Linked DNA regions of Homo sapiens: region 1 is linked to region 2. Evidence: fine-mapped QTL for protein levels in blood plasma. A gene starts in region 2. The other region holds a variant in brackets. All regions are shown on one strand. Distances are between the middles of the regions.

The links. PIP is the chance, under the fine-mapping model, that this variant and not a neighbour inherited with it causes the effect. Protein levels are from antibody-based Olink assays in UK Biobank. Linkage for the fine-mapping came from a reference panel and not from the study's own genotypes, which makes the PIPs less certain.
Region 1: its variant is fine-mapped to the plasma level of the MAVS protein (UK Biobank, PIP above 0.99). The variant lies in the coding sequence of MAVS. If it changes the protein, the assay may bind it differently, which can mimic a change of level.

What each region holds. Positions count from the first base shown.
Region 1 is chr20:3,858,093-3,866,499 of GRCh38, reverse strand. It overlaps MAVS (mitochondrial antiviral signaling protein), which reads right to left. Exons shown (of 7, transcript NM_020746.5): 4 at 4,996-5,168; 5 at 4,087-4,246; 6 at 1,712-2,244; 7 at 1-817. The coding sequence ends at 353. Among named protein-coding and RNA genes, the nearest start is that of MAVS, 15 kb to the right of the region's middle. RefSeq lists enhancers at 1-488, 8,329-8,407. The variant G/A (reference allele first, on the strand shown) is at 2,218.
Region 2 is chr20:3,842,285-3,850,745 of GRCh38, reverse strand. MAVS (mitochondrial antiviral signaling protein) reads right to left here and starts at 3,912. Exons shown (of 7, transcript NM_020746.5): 1 at 3,843-3,912. RefSeq lists silencers at 3,636-4,015, 4,446-4,495, enhancers at 5,857-5,996, 6,985-7,129 and a cis regulatory region at 7,052-7,062.

The sequences.
Region 1 (8,407 bases), 16 kb before region 2:
TGGTCCCTCCTGCTCCACCTGGGCCAACAGGGCTGAGGCCTGGAGGAGGAAGCTCCTCTGGAGGACATGGATGATAACCTGGATTGCCAGTGGGGAAGGTCTGGAGCACTGGGGGCAGCCCAGGACCCAGAAAGCCAAGGACGGGGACCCACACAAGGCACCGTGGGGACAGAGATGCTGCTCTCAGGACTTGGTTCAGCCAAGGCATGTCCTGCTGCCAGGCCTGCAGTCCCTTAACTCCCCTCTGACCCAGCCTCCACAATCCCCAAGAAAGGGACAAGGGGCTTCGGAGAGGGGCCAGGTGTACTGCAGGAACGGAACAGATGGGTGGTGGGAAGAGCCCAGGGCTTCACTAGTGCAGACGCCGCCGGTACAGCACCACCAGGAGTGTGACTACCAGCACCCCTGTCACAGCCACCTGGAGCCACAGAGCCCCAGGTGAGGGCCTGTGGCATGGCACCTCCCTCTCCTGGAACTTCCGGTCGGCTTGTGGCCTGGGGCCGCCATCCGGGTCCGCAGGTGGCCCAGGGTTGCCCTCCAGGAGCTGGATGCTGGGGTTCTCAGCCACGTGGATCCCAAAGGTGCCCTCGGACTTATACTCATTCTCCTCTGGGCCATGGCAGGGCCCCATGCCCAAGGAGGTGCTGGCACTGATGGCAAGATCCTCGAAGCAGCCCGAGAACGGGCTGTCTACCTGGGATGCCAGCACGCCAGGCTTACTCAGCTCCGACCCAAGGCCCCTATTCTCAGAGCTGCTGTCTAGCCAGGCTGAGCTGCCTCCAGTGGCGCCGGCGGGTGTTGGAGCTGCTGGGGTCTCCTGGGAAAGAAAGGAGAGCACTGGAAGGGACTGGGGTTGGCAGGGAGACGAACCTGGTAGGGCGGTCCCATTCCCAGGCCAGGGCATGAACTAACACTCCAACCCCTCAATTCCCAATCTATAATGCCCCTAGGCCACCTTTTCTTGGAGCAGTGGGGGTAGAGGGGACCAAGAATCTGCACCAATGGTGGCCTCCTCCAGGGCAGCCTTTCCCTACTCCCTGGCCTGCCTGTGAGCTCATGCCCACCTGGAAGCCTTTGGTAGGGCGGGGCTCCATCCTGCACTGACATCCTGCCTGGGCCTGAGAACTAGAGAGCAGCCACAGGGTCAGAGGCCTGGCCATGTGCCCAAAGGGCCCTATGGACTTGGCTCTTCCCAGCAGACAGCCGCAGCTAGGGTTAGATGTGAGGCTTGGAGCAGGCAACAATGGGGGGCTGCTGGGTCCGAGTGGCTGCTCCAGGTGGGACTGCGTTCTGTAAAGCCTGGCCATGGAGGGACACACCAGGCATCCTGGTGAAGAGCAAGGCAAGAGGCAGATGGGCCACTGTGCTGTCCCCGTCACTGCTTCCTTATGTGCAAAACGGCACCGCTCGGCTTCACTAGGAACTACGAGCCCTAAATGAACTTATACACCTGACCAGTGGGTGCCCCCTGTGGCTGACCCTCCTGAGGTGTCCAGACTTAGAAGCTCAATGACTGTTCCTCCTGGAGAACATGGTGTGGGGCCTGCATGAGGCTGGTTCTCAACTGTCTGTATGCCCTCAAGGAGAGGCCACAGAGCAGCACAGGCTGGACACAGAATGCAGACTGGGAAGGGGCCAAGGCCAGGGCCAGGTGGGCAAGCTGTCCCGGGGGAAGGGGCCAGGATCCCTGCCAGGAAGGGCGAGGACTCACCTCATTTCTGCTGCTCCCGTCAGTGGGGACTGTGCTGGCAGACACCTTGGTGAGCACCATGCTAGTAGGCACTTTGGATGGCACCATGCCAGCACGGGTTGAGTTGATGGGCAATTTGGATGGTGCTGGATTGGTGAGCGCATTAGAAGGCACTGCACCAGGGGGCTTTGAGCTAGTTGGCAACTTGGAGGGCACTGTGCTGACAGATGCTGGGTTGGCAGGCACTTTCAGGGCCACTGTGTTCACAGGCATCAAGGTGGTAGGCACTTTGGAGGGCAGAGAGTTGGCAGGTGCCTCTGCCCCACTGGAGCAGATGATAGGCTCGGCCTGGTCACTCTCTGCACCCTGTTTACCCTCTGCAGCCCCTGCAGAGGCCAAGCCAGGGGATGAGGAGGAGAAGGAGGTGCCAGTAGATACAACTGACCCTGTGGGTCCAGGCAAGCGGCTTGCCCTGGGGGTGGAACGGGCCAGGGGCTGGAAGGAGACAGATGGAGACACAGGCCCAC[G/A]GGATGGTGTGAGGCTGGAGGTCGCACCTGCCGGTGGAAAAACACAAGTGGAAACACAGACCCAAAGACCATTACCTTGAGGCCTGGAGAAGGGTCCCTCTGGCCCAGATCTCATGGTCCCTACTGTGTCTAGGCCTCCAAATCTCCTGCCCTTGGAGGAGATGCCACAGTCCCTTTGGTCACTGCTTCCTGGCCTGAAAGCCCAACAGCTGCCCTCAGTCCTTGACCTGTAGCCCCAGGTCTGTCCTGGCACACAGTGAAATGGTACCTAGGAGCCTGAAGACCATTATTAATTATTCTCTCCGCTTTTTCCTCTCCCACCTGGGAAACCTCCCCTCTCCTGTGTCTACCTTTTCTACTTTGACCTTAGCCTCATGCAATCCTGGACACTTCCCCCACTGCTGTCCCTCTCCTACCACCATGAGTGGGAGCAGCCATGGATCAGGGCAAGGGGTGGCAGGATGGCTCATGCAGAACAGCTCACACCAGCCGAGAGGCCTGGCCATCCCGGAGGCTTGGGAAGAGAGGGGACAAGGACAAAGCCACCCCTGGGAGGCTGCCTGACCTGGGTGGGGGAAGCAGAGGATAGCAGGTGGTGATGGTCTGTAAAGGCAGTTGCAGCAGGACTCTCCACGGAACTCGGAATGCACATGCCAAGCCCCACAGCTGGCAAAAGTCAGGGTGATTCTGATGTACAGCTCCCCCACCACAATCTAATACCACAGAATCTCATGGGACCTGTGTCTACAAACGTACTGAAACCTAAGCGCCCTCTGCCTCTGTGGTCTACAGCAACTCCTGAAAGGCATCCCGTGGCCAGGTGACACTGCAAAGCAGACAGGTGCTTGGAGCAGTTTGGGGATGACAAAAGTACTAAGATGACGTCTCCCAGCCTCTAACTGCTCATGTGTCTTGTGGCTGTCCCAGGGCACTGAGGGCTGACTGGGCACCAGCGTCATGTGGAATAGTTTGGGAAGTAGGAAAGAGACATGCTGGCCTGAGAGGTCCAGATGGACAACTATATATTTCTGAGGGGGAGCACTGACATCTGGAGTTGAGTCCAGGCCACTGGATGATGAAGACCTTACTTCCTCTGGGGACTGAGAAGTTTTCATGATTCACTGGGAACTGGAGATCTCTGCGGTAAGACAGTGCCTAAAGGTTCCCCTGCCAACAGCTGATGCAGCCCTTCACTGTCCCTCTCCCACTGCCCTATAGGCCCTGGCTGTTCCCTACAGTCCCTTTGGCAGAGCGCAAAAATGGCCCTACTTATCTCGCTCATCTCCACCCAGCCCCACTGCACTGTGCCTGTCAGTCCTCCCGTCTAGGGAGGGAGTCTATTTCCCTACTCCTTGAATCTAGGCTGGCCTTATAACTTGCTTTTGCCCACAGAATGGAGCACAGGGGACACTGTGCCAGTTTTGAGCCCTCTCTGAGAACTCTGCCCAGCTGCCATGATGGGTTTGTGTGCTGGAGGATGAGAGACTACATAGAAGAGAACCAAGGTGCTCAGCAAACAGCCAGAGGCAGAACTTATGTATATACCGGTGAGTACTTGAGAGGAAATTCAGCCAAGACCAGAAGAAATGCCCATGTAGGTAGCCCAAATGCCTGACCCACAGGATCATATGCTAAATAAATGGCTGTATTTTAAGCTACTAAAAAAAAAATTTGGAAAACTGGAGTGGACTATTTGTTACACAGCAAATGCTAACTGATACACCCACTAAGGAACTGGTTTGCTTCCTGGGTTGAACTCCCTTTATTCCCACCTTGTCTCCTGTTCAAGGAAGCCAGATGGGGCAACTCTAATTCTTACCCTCACTTGAGAGATCAGAAGGACCCTATAATTCCAGATTCCATGCATACCTGCTGTGTGGGTACTGCCCAGTTCTGTGTCCTGCTCCTGATGCCCGCTGGAGGTCAGAGGGCTGAGGGCTGCCAGGTCAGAGGAGGACTCCAGGGGGCCACCATCTGGATTCCTTGGGATGGCTCTGGGGCTGAGCGTCTGCAGGGCTTGCTCTGAATTCTGCAATGAGGGAAAATATGAATAAGGCAGTTGCCTCTCCCAAGAGCTCACAAAGGGCAGCTTGTGCTCTTGGGGCATCTCCTATAGGCCTCAGCCCACACCATGGAGCACAGGAGCCAGGGGAGCCCTTGCCTGGGTTCTGGTAATTCCCAGACCCTCTGTCCACAGGTGTCCTTACGTCTACCTCACAGAAAACACACAGCATTGCCAGGTGCGGTGGCTCACGCCTGTAATCCCAGCACTTTGGGAGGCAAAGGTGGGCAGATCACCTGAGGTCAGGAGTTCGAGACCAGCCTGGCTGACACGGCAAAACCCCATCTCTACTAAAAATACAAAAATTAGCTGGGCGTGGTGGTGGGTGCCTGTAATCCCAGCTACTCAGGAGGCTGAGGCAGGAGAATGACCTGAACCCAGGAGGCAGAGGTTGCAGTGAGCCAAGATCACTCCACTGCACTCCAGCCTGGGTGACAGAATGAGACACTGTCACACACACACACACACACACACACAAAACTGTGGTCTCCCAGCTGGTTGCTGACAGAGGATTAGGGCTGCCACAGGGTGAAGACCTGGTCAGCAGCCTGGAAGCTGGTCTGGGGCAGATCCCCACTGAGGAAGCCCTAGGGTTCTGAGCAGAGATTAGGCGTGATTTATAGGGGACGGGAGAGGGTTTCTGGAAGGCTCAATGGGCAGAAGTGGGCAGATAGGAACACAAAAGTGGTGGCTCAAGGTAGACTATGAGGACAGACCTCTCCTGGGGACTCTGGCGCCTGGGTCTCCTGGACAGGCATGGGGTAACTTGGCTCCTTCTCTCTGCAGCTGTTGTAGGGGATGCTGTGGGCCGCAGCAGGTGTGGGGGGCCCTGGCCTCTCAGCAGGAAGTGACGGTGGCTCCAGTGGGTCTGGGGGACGGTCCGAGGTCCCTAGAGGACAAAGATGTAGTGATATCAAGAAGGAATCAGGGCTGGGCACAGTGGCTCATGCCTGTAATCTCAGCACTTTGGGAGGCCAAGGCAGGCAGATCACGAGGTCAGATCGAGACCACCCTGGCTAACACAGTGAAACCCCATCTCTACTAAAAATACAACATTATTATTAGCCGGGCATGGTGGCGGGCCCCTGTAGTCCCAGCTACTCAGGAGGCTGAGGCAGGAGAATGGCGTGAACCCGGGAGGCGGAGCTTGCAGTAAGCCAAGATCGCGCCACTGCACTCCAGCCTGGGCGACAGAGCGAGACTCCGTCTAAAAAAAAAAAGAAAGAAAAAAAAAGAAGGAATCAGGGGCTGGGCACGATGGCTCATGCCTGTAATCCCAGGATTTGGGGAGGCCAAGGCAGGTGGATTAGGAGGTCAGGAGTTCAAGACCAGCCTGGCCAACATAGTGAAACCCCGTCTCTACTAAAAATACAAAAATTAGCCAGGCGTGCTGGCAAGCACCTGTAATCCCAGCTACTCAGGAGGCTGAGGCAGAAGAATTGCTTGAACCTGGGAGACGGAGGTTGCAGTGAGCTGAGATCGCGCCACTGCACTCCAGCCTGGGCAACAGAGCAAGACTCCGTCTCGGGGGAAAAAAAGAAAAAGAAGCCAGACGTGGTGGCTCACGCCTGTAATCCCAGCACTTTGGGAGGCCGAAGTGGGTGGATCACCTGAGGTCGTGAGTTCGAGACCAGCCTGACCAACATGGAGAAACCCTGTCTCTACTAAAAATAACAAAATTAGCCAGGCGTGGAGGCGCATGCCTGTAATCCCAGCTACTCGAGAGGCTGAGGCAGGAGAATTGCTTGAACCTGGGAAGTGAAGGTTGCCATGACCTGAGATTGCACCATTGCACTCCAGCCTGGGCAACAAGAGCGAGACTCCGTCTCAAAAAAAAAAAAAAAAAATAGAAGGAATCAGGGACTATAGGGAGGCTGAGGAAGGAGAACCACTTGAACCCGGGAGGCAGAGGTTGTGGTGAGCCGAAGTCATGCCACTGCACTCCAGCCTGGGCGACTGAGCAAGACTCTGTCTCAAAAAAAAAGGAATTGGGGGTTCTCCTCATGATTAAAGAGGCTTGGGTGCTCTTGGGTACACCCCCCGCCCCACCCATAGGTCCAAAAGCTGTTCTGATGTGGGCCCACTCCTCAAGAGTGACAAGCAGGGCTGGGCTTGGTGGCTCACGCCTGTAATCCCAGCACTTTGGGAGGCCGAGGCGGGTGGATCACGAGGTCAGGAGATCGAGACCATCCTGGCTAACACGGTGAAACCCCATCTCTACTAAAAAATACAAAAAGTTAGCCGGGCATGGTTGCAGGCGCCTGTAGTCCCAGCTACTCGGGAGGCTGAGGCAGGAGAATGGCGTGAACCCGGGAGGCGGAGCTTGCAGTGAGCTGAGATGGCACCACTGCACTCCAGCCTGGGCGACAGAGCGAAACTCCATTTCAAAAAAAAAAGGAGTGACAAGCATCACTTGGCAAGGGGGCAGGAGTGGGAGGGTGAGAGCAGATGGAGGACAAGGTAGCAAGGGAGGAAGGGGAGTATGGGGGGGCCTCGTGGGTCTCTAGTCACCCACGCCGTGTCAGCAGTCACTCTTCTCTGTCCCCAGGCATCCTAGGACCCAGTGGCTTTCTCCTCCACATGACTATCATTGCTCACTGACCCCTGCCCTGATGCTGCCACCTGAGCCCCTCCCCTTTGCCCCCACCCCTCATCAGGCCCTACCACAGCCATTGTATTCAGGGGATCACTATTTTTGGGTTTTTTTTTTTTGGAGACGGAGTCTCACTCTGTCATCCAGGCTGGAGTGCAGTGGCGCAATCTCGGCTCACTGCAACCTCCACCTCCCCGGTTCAAGCAATTCTCCTGCCTCAGCCTCCCAAGTAGCTGGGATTACAGGCTTGCACCACCATGCGCAGCTAATTTTTTTGTATTTTTGGTACAGACAGGGTTTCACCATATTGGCCAGGCTGGTCTCGAACTCCTGACCTTGTGATCCGCCCGCCTCGGCCTCCCAAAGTGCTGGGATTACAGGCGTGAGCCACCGTGCCCAGCCAGGGATCACTATTAATCTCCACACATGAAGAGACATATTTAAAAAGAAGGAAGGAAAAAAAGGAAGGAAGAGAGGAAGGGAGGGAGGGAGGGAGGAAAAGCAAGGAAGGGAAAAAGGAGAGAAAAGCAAGCATGAGAGCCAGACGCGGTGGCTCACACCTATGATCCCAGCACTCTGGGAGGCCGATCGCTTCAGCCCAGGAGTTTGAGACCAGCCTGGGCAACATAGTGAGATGTCATCTCTACAAAAAATTTAAAAATTAGCCAGGTGTAGTTGTCCATGCCTGTAGTCCCAGCTACTCTGGAGGCTGAGGTAGAAGGATCACTTGAGTCCAGGAGGTCAAGGCTGCAGTGAGCTATGATTGCACCACTGCACTGCAGCCTGGGTGGCGCAGCAAGACTCTGTCTCTAAAAGGAAAAAAAAAAAAGAGAGAGAAAGAAAAGAAAAACATGGATGTCCCACAGCTATAAATGTGACCAGGGTCTCGGGGGTTACCTCTAGTTTGAAATATAAATAGGGCTGGCTTGATTTTTTTTCCCATGTCTTTTTTTTTTTTTTTTTGAGATGGAATCCCACTCTGTCGCCCAGGCTGGAGTGCAGTGGCGCGATCTCAGCTCACTGCAACCTCTGCCTCCCTGGTTCAAGTGATTCTCCTGCCTCGGCCTCCTGAGTAGCTGGGACAACATGCCCGGCTAATTTTCTGTATTTTTAGTAGAGACGGGGTTTCACTGTTTTAGCCAGGGTGGTCTCCATCTCCTGACCTCATGATCCGCCTGCCTCGGCCTCCCAAAGTGCTGGGATTACAGGTGTGAAACACCGCGCCCAGCCTCCTCCCATGTCTTGATCTCACTCAGGATCAAACTCAATCTCATCAAATCGCCTCCGAGCACTCAGAGTGGCAGGGACACTGAGAGGGACTTAAAGAATAACTGGGCAGCTGATAGAGGGCGTCGAAGGCTCTCAGGGTAAACCAGGGGAGGGGAAGAGAAGGAGGAGAGAGGGAGGGTGAATGAGTAGGTGGGGGAGAAGAAATGAGGAAGGGTGGGAGGCGAATGCTACAGCCGTGAAAGTTAGGGGAGACTCCATGTGCTGGGCATACAGGAAGTGCCCAGCCCAGCTCAATACTCAACACG
Region 2 (8,461 bases):
CCCGGCTAATTTTTTGTATTTTTAGTAGAGATAGGGTTTCACCGTGTTAGCCAGGATGGTCTCAATCTCCTGAACTCGTGATCCGCCTGCCTCGGCCTCCCAAAGTGCTGGGATTACAGGCGTGAGCCACTGCGCCTGGCCTTTTTTTTTTTTTTTGAAATGGAGTTCACTCTTTTTGCCCAGGCTGGAGTACAATGGCGCGATCTCGGCTCACTGCAACCTCTGCCTCCTGGGTTCAAGCGATTCTCCTGCCTCAGCCTCCCAAGTAGCTGGGATTACAGGCATGAGCCACCACGCCCCGCTAATTTTGTATTTTTAGTAGAGACAGGGTTTCACCATGTTCCGGTCTCGAACTCCCGACCTCAGGTGATCCGCTCACCTCGGCCTCCCAAAGTGCTGAGATTTACAGGCGTGAGCCACCGCGCCCAGCAGCTTAAAAAAATTTCTTTTTTTTTTTTTTTTTTTTTTTTTGAGACAGTCTCGCTCCTTCACCCAGGCTGGAGTGCAGTGGTGCAATCTCGGCTCACTGCAAGCTCCGCCTCCCGGGTTCACACCATTCTCCTGCCTCAGCCTCCCAAGTAGCTGGGACTACAGGCGCCTGCTACCACGCTCGGCTAATTTTTTGTATTTTTAGTAGAGACAGGTTTCACCGTGTTAGCCAGGATGGTCTCGATCTCCTGACCTCGTGATCTGCCCGCCTCGGCCTCCCAAAGTGCTGGGATTACAGGCATGAGCCACCGCGCCCAGCCAGCTTAAAAATTTTTAAGTGCCTCAAATATAAGCAATTGCTGCCAGTTGTTTATGTAGGAGTTACCACAATTTGCAGTTATAGATGTATTTGCTCGTTACTTTTCTGCCGCCCCCATCAGGGAGTGCTGCAGGGAATAAAAGAGACAAGGTCTATGCCACATCCAATTTATATTCTAATGGGGTGGGACAAATAACAGATCAGTAAATTAATACCCAAATAAGAGTTCCAGATAGCAATAAAGGCTCTAAAGAAAGTAAAGCAGGTAATGAGACAGAGCCCCTGGAGACAGGCATGCTACTTGAACTAGGGGGTCAAAGAAGCCTTTCTGAACTAGCGTGCAGAACACAGCTGAGCTGTTCTCAGGCTCTGAGAAGATTGGTGTTTTAGGCAGAGAGCATGGTAAATGCAAAAGTCCTAAAACAAGAATGAGCTTGGCATGTTTGAAGAATAGAAAGCAGGTCAGTGTGGTCTAGGTCAAGAAAGCTAGGGATGGCTGGCTGCGTGACTCACGCCTATAATCCCAGCACTTTGGGAGGCCTAGGCGGGTGGATCACCTGAGCTCAGGAGGTTGAGACCAGCCTCGCCAACATGGTGAAACCCTTTCTCTACTAAAAATACAAAAATTAGCATGGTGGTGGGCGCCTGTAATCCCAGCTACTCGGGAGGCTGAGGCAGGAGAATCGCTTGAACCCAGGAGGCAGAGGTTGCAGTGAGCTGAAATCATCCCATTGCACTCCAGCCTGGGTGACAAGATCAAAACTCCATCATAGGAAAAAAAAAAAAAAAAGCAAGCAAGCTAGGGAAAGGGGCAGAGATTGTCAAGGTCAAGGAGGTGGCAGGGGCCACTCATGTAGAGTGCTGTAGGAAAGGACTCTGGGTTTTAGTTGGAGTGAAACAGGGAACCACTGGAAGGTTCCGGCAGGGAAAGAAGAGGATCTGATTTACATTAAAGACTTCTCTGGTGGTTGTGAGGACTTTGGAGGGGCCAGGATGAAAACTGGGAGACCAGTAAGGAGGCCACAGCCCAGGAGACAGGATGACTATGGTCAGGATGGGAACCACAGAGATGGCAGGAGGCAGCCAGATTCCTGGTGTTTTGAGGGTGTAGGAGATAAGGGAGAGAAAAGAAGCATGACTCCTTGGGCACTGGGTGGATGGAAGGTGCCCTTTTACCAGGCCAGAGAAGCCAGGGGAGGAGCAGTGGCTCAGAAGGGACTCCAGAACTCAGTTCGGAACAAGTGAAGTTTGAGATGCTATTGGATTCCAAGTGGGTTGTCAGGGAGGGAAGGAGGCAGGAGAGGACCAAGTGGGCATCAGGCAGGCATGAGACCTCTCTCAGGAGGCAGTGCTGTAGAGCAGACAGCACCTAAAAGCTGTTGGGCCACCAGACCTTCCTCACAGGGGAAGCAGTCCTGTCACTGGCCTCAGAGCCTCACATGCATGAGTTGCTTTGCCAGCCAGCAGGCCCTGCTACATTCCTCGTGGGGCAAGTACTAATGACAGGTCAGGAGAATCAGGAAGGTGAGGCGGGGGTCCTCTGAGCCTTCAAGAAATTAGCAAAGAACAACTCTATGGGAGTTAATAGATCCCTTTCTCGGCCGGGCGCGGTGGCTCACGCCTGGAATCCCAGCACTTTGGGAGGCCGAGGCAGGCAGATCACTTGAGGTCAGGAGTTTGAGACCAGCCTGGCCAACATGGTGAAACCCCGTCTCTACTAAAAATGCAAAAATTAGCCAGGCATGGTGGCACACACCTGTAGTCCCAGCTACTCAGGAGGCTGAGGCAGGAGAATCTCTAGACCCAGGAGGCAGAGGTTGCAGTGAGCCAAGATTGGACCACTGCGCTCCAGCCTGGGCAAGAGAGTGAGACTCCATTTCAAAAAAAAAAAGACCCCTTTCTCCTTCCTTTCTCATGGCATCAGCCAGGTACCAGAAGGCAGTCAGATGAGGCACTCTTCTGCATTCCAGCTTCAGCCACAGATGGAGGGGAAGGGATGATGTGGCCCAAACAAAAGGAAAGGAAGCCCACATTTGTTCACATTTATGGAGGGCCCATTGTAGACAGGCACATCCTAAGGTTCTTTCAGTTAATCCTTCCCCAATCCCGTGACAGGGAAAGTGTTGCCAAGGTGCACAGCTGGCCAGAGGCTAGCACAGGATTTGAACCCAAAACCTGCTGCCTCACTGCAACTGGTCATACACCTTGCAGGGCACAGAGACCCCTGCAGCGAGACCCACACAGCCACCTGCCTTCAAGCCCAAAGAGGACCCAAGGTCACTTGGCGGGAGGGAGGCTGAGGGTGCACTTAGGTGGAAGCAACATTTAGTCCAGACATTAACCCTGCTTTCACATGGCTGCCACAGGTCCCAGGTCGCTGGCTGTCCTCCTAGATATTTTTGAGGCTTCACGGCTTCCATACAGAGAATCCCTTTTTCGTGTTTTTGGTTTGTTTCATGTTTTCTTGGCACTTCCTTCCCAACTGAGAAGGAAGTAGGTGACAGAGTGTTCCCAATACAGCAAAGTTTCCGACCTGACTGTCCAGAGGCTCTGAGTGCATCCCGGAAATAAACACCCACCCTTCCCAAAGGGACAGGCCTCACAGCCTTGGATCGGATTCCTGGGCGCGACCCAGGTCCGCGGAGGGCGGGGAGGCCGTTTTGAGCTGGTGTCGCCGCCGAGAACTGTCCAGACCCAGCGGAGGGCGGCAGCACTCGACCTCTAGGCGCACCCGGTCGAGGCTCGGCCCCACCTTAGCGTCACCCTGGGCCCGCGGGCGGCAGGAGGAGGTCAGCGGCCGCTGCCCGTCCCCTTCTGGCCCTACCTTTCCCCCAGCCTGAGCAGACGCCCAGCGCCACCTACCCCCTTTTCCCCGGATGCTGGATGCGGCGCCTGGAGCCCTCAGTGTTCCCGAAACTCTTGCGACAGGGCCCGCTCTTCCGGATCCCCGCGCGTCCTGTCCCCTCCTGGGCCCCCCGCGCACCCCAGACCCAGGGCGTCCCGGCGGACTCCGTCCTGCCGCTGCAGCCACCTTCCCTAAAGGCGTCCGTGCGTGCTGAGCCGAAAGGACCCAACGCCCGGGAAGCGATCTTACCTCGGGTACCCCCGGCCCTGAGACCTGGCGACCGCCGCCCGGGGCCCAGGACCCTTCCCGCAGCGAGGAGGCGGGGCGGGCAGAGCGCGCGGCCATTGGCCATGTGGAGGGGCGGGGCTACTCGGCCGCGCGTGGTTGGCTGGCGACGCAGGCGGCTGCGCAGCGGGGACGGTCACTGGGCCTTGGTTTGCGGGTCGGGAAGCGCTAGACTGGGCTCGGAGAACCGACCTGATTTTTTGCTGGGGGCGCGCAGTCTCGAGCAACTTCCAGGGGAAGTCCGGTGTCCGGCCAGAAACCAGGCAGGTGGCCGGCCTCGGAGTCATCGGGGGGCTGAGAATTCCATCCCCACGCTTCCCAAGTGAAGCAGCCCCTCCTCCCCCTGGGAACTTTGAGGGGTGAGGGTCTTCGTGTCGTTCTCTCCGGCACCCCCATGGCCTGGCATACAGTTAGTGCCCAATAAACGTTGGGTGCCGCTGAAGTCACAGGGGCAAGGATGCCTATCCTGGAGACGTGCACGCTGGGCCTGTGGGAGTGGGAGCGGGCGGGGGACTGCTGGGTAGGTAGGCGCAAGGCAGGGACGCCAAGGTTGGCTGGCGGGCAGGCTGGGTATGGGTTGGGTGCTGCGTGGGAGAGGCCTCTTACGCCCAAGGGCCTGGGACAGGTACCTCCCGCAGTTCCTGCCATCTGCCTCGCCCTTCCCCTTCTGGGGCAGAGGCCAGCACTTACTGAGCACCTACGATCTTCCAGGCACAGGGTCTTCTATTCTTTTTTTTTTTTTTTTTTTTTGAGACAGAGTCATGCTCTGTCGCCCAGGCTGGAGTACAATGGCGCGATCTCGGCTCACTGCAACCTCCACCTCCTGGGTTCAAGCAATTCTCCTGCCTCAGCCTCCCAAGTAGCTGAGATTACAGGCACATGCCACTGCGCCCGGCTAATTTTTGTATTTTTAGTAGAGACGGAGTTTCACCATGTTGGCCAGGCTGGTCTCAAACTCCTGACCTCAGGTGATCCTCCCACCTCGGCCTCCCAAAGTGCTGGGATTACAGGCGTGAGCCACTACGCCCAGCCTCAAGTGAGGTTTTATTACTGTACTTTATATCCCTGTGAATATTTCACAACCTTCAGCATTTACAAAGTATGCTTAATCACACCTGAACTGTAATAAAACCAGCTCTGCCTAGTTTAGCCAAGAGGGCATAAATGTTGATTAGTTCAAGAATCAATCCTGCCTGCTCCCCACCGGAGCAGCTCTAGCAGCTTCATATCTAATTCTTTCAGGAAGAACATTGAAAGTGTAGGAGCGGGCTTCCAAGTGCAGCTATCACTCCTGTCTTTGCTGGACCTCAAAGAGCATTCAAACAATCCCACTGCCTGACTAGGTGGTTCCCTGCCACCTATCAACAGCTTTTATAAAGATTTAGACAAAGAAGAACACAACAACATGCTTATGGTATTCCTATCAAAAGCTCATGATCTGAAACTAATCATAGGGAAACAGTAAGCAAACCCAAAACGAGAGACATTTGACAGCTGTCCTATCCAATACAATGGCTACTAGCCACATGTAGCTATTTTAATTAAAATTAAATAATACTTAGAAGCCAGTTCCTGAGACCCACGAGCCACATTTCTCTTTTTTTTTTTTTTTTTTTTTTTTGAAACAGAATCTCACTCTTTCACCCAGGCTGGAGTGCAGTGGCCCAATCTCGGCTCACTGCAACCTCCGCCTCCCGGGTTCAAGTGATTCTCCTGCCTCAGCCTCACGAGTAGCTGGGACTACAGGCGCATGTCACCACGCCCGGCCAATTTTTGTATTTTTAGTAGAGACGAGGTTTCACCATATGGGCCAGGCAGGTCTCAAACTCCTGACCTCAAGTGATCCACCCACCTTGGCCTCCCAAAGTGCTGGGATTACAGGCGTGAGCCACTGCACCTGGCCCATGAGCCACATTTCAAATGCTATTTTCATGTAGCTAATGGCTTCATACTCGGTGACACAGAGCATTTCTATTTTTTTTGTTTGTTTTGTTTTGAGACAGAGTTTCACTCTTGTTGTTGAGGTTGGAGTACAATGGCGTGATCTCGGCTCACCACAACCTCTGCCTCCCAGGTTCAAGCGATTCTCCTGCCTCAGCCTCCCGAGTAGCTGGGATTATAGGCATGCACCACCATGCCCAGCTAATTTTGCATTTTTAGTAGACACGGGGTTTCTCCACCTTGGCCAGGTTGGTCTCAAACTCCCGACCTCAGGTGATCTGCCTGCCTCAGCCTCCCAAAGTTCTGGGATTACAGGTGTGAGCCACAGCGTCAGGCCCAAACAGAGCATTTCTATCATCACTGAAAGTTCTATTGGATAGCACTGCTCTGCAGAATAACTCTTCAAAAATTTCAAGGTCAGGAAAAACAAGGAGACTGAGAGACTGCTCCAGAGAAAAGGACACCAAAGTGACATGACAACTGAATGCAATATGGGAACCTGGGTTGGATCCTGAAACAGAAAAAGGACTTCAGGTGAAATCCAAATAAGGCTTTTGGATCAGTTAACAATAATCTAGCTGGGCATGGTGGCTCACGCCTCTAATTCCAGCACTTTGGGACGCCGAGGTGGGTGGATCACCTGAGGTCAGGAGTTTGAAACCAGCCTGGACAACATGGTGAAACCCTGTCTCTACTAAAAATACAAAAATCAGCCAGGCATGGTGGTGGGCACCTGCAATCCCAGCTACTCAGGAGGCTGAGGTAGGAGAATCGCTTGAACCCGGGAGGCAGAGGCGGCAGTGAGCCGAGATCGCACCATTGCACTCCAGCTTGGGCAACAACAGTGAAACTCTGTCTCAAATTAACAACAACAACAACAATCTGTCAGTGTTAGGATCATTGTACTGGGTTATGTAAGATGTAAACATTTGCATTATTTTTGCAACTATGTTGTAAATCTGAAATTATTTCAAAAATATAAAGTAAAATAAATCATCTTTTGACCCTATCTGGCTATTTATATTATCTTTTATTTCTTATTGCATCCCACCCTATTTCATGGGTGTAATTCATTGATCACTGTCCATTTATTAGGAGAAGAGCAAGTCCAGAGAGTGATCTATGCTCTAGGCTGCCCCCAGTGAGGGCCTTGGAGCTGCCCCCTGCCCAGTAAAGTTCAGCACAGACAGGCCCATCTCCAGGCCTCCGAGGGAGGCTGTGACCCACCCATGATGACTCAGCACCCACCAGCTCACGTCACCCCCTGGAGAGCAGAGGTCAGGCGCAAAGACAGTGCCAGAGGGCTCCAAACTCGGTTATGTTCTCCGGTCTGAGCCCTTGAGGGAACTATGACTAAAAAACATAATCCCCTCCTTTATGACTTCATTTTGAATAGTATTTTAAACAGTTATTCTTTATGTTTTATTTATTTATTTTTAAAATAAAACAGACACAGTCTTGCTACATTGCTCTGGTTGGTCTTGAACTCCTGGGCTCAAGCAATCCTTCCATCTAAGCCTCCGAAGTAGCTAGGACCACAGGCACACTCCACTGCACTTAAACAGATATTCTTTATACTATTTTAATTTTTTCATTCTTTCAACTTAATTTACCAAAAATATATACTGTTTACAGCTAATGTGGGGAAAACAGAAATATTTGATGATGAAAACCAAAATCCATATTCATAATGCCACCATCTACAAAAATTAGCCAGTCATGGTGGCACACATCTGTAATCCCAGCTACTCAGGAGACTAAGGCAGGAGAATTGCCTGAACCCAGGAAACGGAGGTTACAGTGAGCCAAGATCATGCCACTGCACTCCAGCCTGGGCGACAGAGTGACTCCATCTCAAAAAAAATACTACTAATAATAATAATGCCACCATCCAGGGGTGACTGCTGGTGACGCTCCAGTGTCTTTTCTAGTATTTTTTTTTTTTCCTACAATACAGAGTCTCCAAGTCCTCTGACTTCCTGGGGTTATCCTTGCCTTGACCAGCCATGTAAGATGGTTCTGGTTCTAGCCATGATGTGGGACGTAATAGGGTCTGGCATGAGCCTGCCTTACCTCTCAGGGGTCTCAGGAGGAGGGGGCTTGGCTCACTTCAGCTCCTGGGTCAGTCGCTGCTACAGCCAGCTCCTCCTCTGGGACTGTGGTTGGCATAGCCCTTTCATCAGGCCTCAGGACACTGTGTGGCTCGTCACCTGCCGCTGACACAATACAGTGTGCTTAATCACATCTGAACTGTAATAAAACCAACTCTGCCTAGTTTAGCCAAGAGGGCATAAATGTTGATTAGTTCAAGAATCAATCCAGCCCTGCCTGGGCTCTTGCGGCTTCATATCTAATTGTTTCAGGAAGAACAATTGAAAGTGTGGGAGCCATAAGATTAGGCACACTTAATTGTATTGCTGCTTGGCAAGGACATGCCTTGAGAGTTAGATATCAGAGTTCCTAAAATTCACAGGCCTCCCCCAACACAGGGGACTTCTCCCTGGTCACGTCCCTCCACGCTCCCAGCTTCTGGTGCCCTGCTTGCTCTCAGCCCCTCTTGCTGTCTCTTGTCCTAGGGCTCCTCTCCCAAAATCAGATATTCAGTGCAGGAAACAGATGTCACCCTAGGTGTTTTGTGCATG